Regions from separate parts of the Homo sapiens genome. Here region 2 is linked to region 1. Evidence: fine-mapped expression QTL. Tissue or cell type: whole blood. Region 1 holds a variant in brackets; the other region holds the start of a gene. All regions are shown on one strand. Distances are from middle to middle.

Region 1 (2,750 bases):
GAGCCACCTTGCCCAGCCTATAATTTAATTTTTAATAATGACTCGGTTAGGCTGGGCGCAGTGGCTCATGCCTGTAATCCCATCATTTTGGGAGGCTGAGGCGGGTGGATCACAACGTCATGAGTTTGAGACCAGCCGGGCCAACATGGTGAAACCCCATCTCTGCTTAAAAAATACAAAAATTAGCCGGGCATGGTGGCGTGGGCCTGTAATCCTAGCTACTCCGAAGGCTGAGGCAGGAGAATTGCTTGAATCCAGGAGGCGAAGCTTGCAGTGAGCCAAGATCACGCCACTGCACTCCAGCCTGGGCGACAAAGCAAGACTTCTTCTCAAACAAAACAAAAAACAAAACAAACAAACAAACAAAAAATGACTGTGTTAACGACTGGCTTGCAAAATTTCTGAAAATTCACAATTGGCTCCGGAGGATGGGGTTGATCCAACTCCAGGCTGACACTGCCCCTGGGGTGAGGGCCCCCAGGAATTGGAGGGCGGGGGCTGAGGGGACGGTCCCTTAAGGCCTTATGCCCACAGTCGCCTTTTCCTCCCCCAGATCCTCTCCTTCATCCTGCACACAATCGTGCGAGGATTCATCCACTCCGCTGTCGGGGGCCTGTACGCTGCCGTGTAAGTCCTGGAAGCCGCAGGTGGCCTGGTGGGCGAGGGTGTGGGAATGGCCGGGGGGAGGTTGCTGGTGGGACTGAGACTCTGAGGCAGGGTCAGCCTGTCCCAGAAGGGCTCATCTTCCTGCTTCAGGGGACAGGTACCAGGGTTTCTGCTGGGTGTTTCAGGGAAAGGCCATACCTCGTGGGAAGCAGGTCAGTGGGCAGACAGTTGGGTGCTCACAAGCCTTGGCATTCAACACGAAGTCAGTTCCCCCAGCCAGGGTCAGGCACCTGTGCAGCTCATTATGGCCTCAGGGGCCACTACAGCCGAGTCCTGGGGCTGGCCCTGGCTGCTCACTGGGAAGGATGGGTAGGTTCTGGCTGCCTGAAGCTAAATGCGGAAGTTCCAGTTGCCCTCATCACGGGCAGCAACATGGGTGACTGAGTCCAGAATACACCAGACGGGCCCATCCAGAGCCTCAGTGCGCCCAGCTCTGGCCATAGCTTTCTCCAGCCCTGGCTAAAATGAAACCTGTATCTTTTTCCAAGAAGCCCCAGAAACATAAAAGGAACCACAGTGGTTCCTTCTTCTCTGGCTCAGGCCTTGACCCAAAAACTGAAACTCAAACATCATCATCCACAGTCTCTGATGTGGGACCAGCTCATGTGTTGCTGGGATTCCTTTCCCACCTCTGGGCCAGCAGAGCCTGACATGTGCTAAGATTTAGCCCGGAACTCTCTCCCAATTCCCGCAACAGCCCCTGGGGTAATCCCAGCTCCGCTTGCCCTCCGCCTGCCCCTCCCCAGGCCTGGAGGAAGCTGTGGCTGTCCTGGCAGGGTCTGAGGGAGGGGGGCGGGATCTGTGGTGCTGAGTTTCC[G/A]CGATTACTCAATGCTTCTCTGGACGAGGGCACTGCAGAGCCAAGCCCAGCCTCCACACTCCTCTCTGGGCCTGTTTCCCAAACCGCAGGTCCCCGCTGGCACCACGCTTTCCACTCGGCTCAGCCAGACACCCACAGGCCCTGGGCACAGCTGAGTGGGGTGGGCCCTCCCCAGAGTCTGGGGCCTGGAGCTGGTCCAAAGAGAAACACTTTGCAGAACCACCCAGCAGGGCCGGGCGCGGTGGCTCACGCCTGTAATCCCAGAACTTTGGGAGGCCGAGGCAGGCAGATCACAAGGTCAGGAGTTTGAGACCAGCCTGGCCAACGTAGTGAAACCCCGTCTCTACTAAAAATACAAAAAATTAGCCAGATGTGGTGGCGGGCGCCTGTAATCCCAGCTACTAGGGAGGCTGAGGCAGGAGAATTGTTTGGACTGGGGAGGCGGAGGTTGCAGTGAGCCGAGATCGTGTCATTGCACTCCAGCCCAGGCGACAGTGCAAGACTCCATCTTAAAAAAAAAAAAAAAAAAACAGAACTGCCCAGCAGGAAGGAATCCGAGGGCTGGCACCCCACCCTTCTCTGGCACCAACGGTGCAGCCCGGGGTCACCAGACACCTGGGGCCAAGCAAAGCCCAGGAGGCAGGATGGCTGTGAGCTGTCGCTTGCCCTGCAGGTACCCCTCCACCCAGTTCGGCAGCCTCACGGGACTGCAGTCTCTGATCAGCGCGCTCTTCGCCCTTCTGCAGCAGCCGCTGTTTCTGGCCATGATGGGTCCTCTCCAGGGAGACCCTCTGTGGGTAAGAGGGGTCGGGGGATGGTGGGTCATGGGCGCCTGCCCCCTTCTGCTAACTGCGAGCTGCAAGGTCCCCCTCGGGGGCTTCAGGGCCCCGAGGACATGTGGGAGCGTTGGTTAGGATTGGTTAAGAGTCCCTTTGTGAATGGTGGCTAGGCAGGAAAAGGAACATGTCCTCTCTGGACCTGATTTGGGGAGAAATAGAACAGAGTTCCTGGGCCGGGCGCGGTGGCTCACACCTGTAATCCCAGCACTTTGAGAGGCCGAGGCGGGAGCATCACTTGAGGTCAGGAGTTCAAGACCAGCCTGGCCAACATGGTGAAACCAGGTCTCTACTAAAAATACAAAAATTAGCCAGGTGTGGTGGCAGGTGCCTGTAATCCCAGATACTCGGGAGGCTGAGACAGGAGAATCACTTGAACCCGGGAGGCGGAGATTGCAGTGAGCTGAGATTGCGCCACTGCACTCCAGCCT
Region 2 (2,624 bases), 51 kb before region 1:
GCCTCGAATCCGGGGGACGAAGACGGGGAGCTGAGCTTTCGGAGCCCGGGCTTATCAGACGGGGACCCGGAGCCCCCTCGAACCCTCCCTAGCTTGTACCAGCTGGCGGACGTGGCCCGTAGCATCGCCCTGCAGAGGGGACCTTCCCTGAAAGGGACGGGGAACGGGGTGAAGGTGGCCAGCGCGGGCAGGGAGCACCCAGATGACGATCAAGGGTGGAGGGTCCCCGGAGGACCGAGCAGTGCGTGAACACGGGCGGAGAAAGGTCAGTCTGATGGGGGGAGCTCAGGAGACCCCATCCTAGGACGGGACAGACCAGCCCCAAATCCCCTTGCAGATTTCCAAGGGCCAACTTCCAGGGACCGGGCAGACGCCACCGGGGAGAGGGGAAGGGGTCGGTGCATCAGCGGGGGGCGCCACGGCTGGACCGGGTCCGGGATCCCAGGCCCCGAATACGCCGGGACGGGAACCACCGGGGCGGGGGAGCGAGGAACCAGGACCCAAAGCCCGAGGCGGCGGGGACGGCGGCGCTGCGTGGGGAGGAGGCGGGGTGGGGATTCGAGAGTGGAACCACCGTGCGGAGCCGGCGCATCTGGGCGTGGTGACCCGCGCGCAGGGGGCAGCTGGGGACGGCGGGGCGGCCGCGGGAGAGCCCGGCTGGGGGCGCTGGTGGCCCGGCGGCTTCTGGGGGGAGTCCGCTGGGGGCCGGGACGCGGAGCCGGAGCCCCAGCCTCGCAGGGTCAGGCCGCTGGAGAGGCCGCGGGGCGATGTCGCCGGGGATTCCCGGCCGCGCTGTGACTCGGGTTGAAGGCTGCAAAGCCGAGGCCCGGCCCGCAGCGCCCAGGCCCCTCCCGTCCCCCATCTCTCTTGTTTGTCTCCGAGTCCGGCCGGAACCGGCTTCTGCTCGCGGCGGGGCGGGCGGGGGGCTGGCTGCTGATTGGTCGACGCCTGTTTCCAGCCCCGCTCAGCCAATCAGCGGGCGGCAGTGTTTTCTTCTTGGGGTCGGAATAAAAGGGCTGGAATAAAAGAGGGCAGAAAAGGCGCCGGGCGGGCCCGACACACGCCGGAGGAGCCGGGTGAGCTGCAGCAGGGAGGGGATCGCGGCCGGGGCGAGGGCGCGGGGGCAGAAGCGGCCGCCGAAGGGGCGTAGGGAGAAAACGTGGGAACGAGGAGAGAGATGGAGCGATGAGGGGCCGCCAGGGAAGAGATGACGAACAGATGCGGGCTGGGGAATGGAGGCGCGGGGGTCCGAGGCCATGGAAACGGGCGAGTTGCCGGGGGAACGCCCGAGATGGGGGTCGCGCGGCTGGCTCGCGCCACCGGTTTGAACCGGCTCCTCGTCTCCCACGCTGGGTTCGCGTGGCCGCAGCGCCTAGCGACCTAGACGGCGGCCAATGGCGCGGCAGTTCCTGCGCCGTCCGGCCAATGAGCGCGCCGGGGCGGGCCGTTCCGTAGGTCTGGGCGCTGATCTTGTGGTTGAAGAAACCAGCTCTGGGGAAGGGTCTCGGGCGCGGGCGGGAGGGCACCTGTCAGGGTCCCTGGGAGAGGCAGCCCTCGGATCTGCCCCTGCCCACCTCACGCTGCGTTCCATGCTGGCCCCAGGCGATGTCAGTCCTGCTGCAGGCCAGGACTAGTTCCACGGCCCTGAGCATGCGTTAGCCCCTTCTTGCCTCCATGCCTCAGTTTACCTCGGAGTGAGCTGCGGGAGACGTCTCCCTGCCTGGCCGGGGCGGCTCTGTCGTAGCGGAGGGCAGCGGTACGAGCCGGCCGCGGGCTCGGGGTGTCCCAGGTCCGGGCAGGGCTGGGGTTCGCTTCCTCTGCTGCGCGCACCGGCCGCCGCGGCCGGGGAGGGGTGGCAATCCCGAGCCCTGCGGCAGCGGTCGGGGCTGCTGGGGGCGGCCGCAGGGGCTGGGCAAGGGCCGGCCGCTGACGCCGAGTTCTGTGCGCAGGTGGTGCAGAGCCGGAGCCGGAGCCGGAGCCGCGCCGCGCCGCACCATGGCGCCCACCCTGGCCACTGCCCATCGGCGCCGCTGGTGGATGGCCTGCACGGCCGTGCTGGAGAACCTCCTCTTCTCGGCAGTCCTCCTGGGCTGGGGCTCGCTGCTCATCATGCTCAAGTCAGAGGGCTTTTACTCCTACCTGTGTACCGAGCCAGGTGAGACAAGCGCCTGGGGTTGCGGGGGGCTCCTGGAGCTGGGGCTTTGGGAGGGGGCGGGATGGGGGCGAAGACCTAGCGAGCCACAGCACCGCATTGCCCAGTGCCTCTAGGGTATCAGAAGGCCCATCTGATCCTCACCCAGCCCTGCCGGGTACTTGTCATTGCCCCTGTTTTGTGGACGAAGACATCGAGGCTCAGAGCGATCTGTCTTGCGCAAGGCCGCAGAGCCTGGGCCTGCCATCCACCCAGAACCCCACCTGCTGTCCAGGGTGTTCCTTCCACCCGCTACGAACAGTGCTGGACTGCTCTCCTCTCCTCCCAGCCCTGGAACATAGCTTGGCTGGTAGTAAACATGTTGCTGTCTGCTTGTGAGAAAGAGGAACTCCAGATTAAGGGGCTGGGGTGCAGCAGGAGAGGAAGTGGCCTTGCCTCCACCCCAGGGAGGGCTCATCTAGAATCTAGACGT

Evidence for each region. PIP is the estimated chance that this variant, and not a neighbour inherited with it, causes the effect.
Region 2: it holds the start of SLC43A2, and the variant in region 1 is fine-mapped to the expression of SLC43A2 in whole blood (TOPMed, PIP above 0.99).

The regions. Positions count from the first base shown.
Region 1 is chr17:1,576,127-1,578,876 of GRCh38, reverse strand. It overlaps SLC43A2 (solute carrier family 43 member 2), which reads left to right. Exons shown (of 14, transcript NM_152346.3): 12 at 554-627; 13 at 2,157-2,280. Among named protein-coding and RNA genes, the nearest start is that of PITPNA, 15 kb to the right of the region's middle. RefSeq lists enhancers at 114-924, 925-1,736, 1,737-2,548, 2,549-2,750. The variant G/A (reference allele first, on the strand shown) is at 1,484.
Region 2 is chr17:1,627,246-1,629,869 of GRCh38, reverse strand. It overlaps SLC43A2 (solute carrier family 43 member 2), which reads left to right and starts at 1,036. Exons shown (of 14, transcript NM_152346.3): 1 at 1,036-1,076; 2 at 1,950-2,155. The coding sequence starts at 1,996. RefSeq lists enhancers at 1,788-2,325, 2,326-2,624.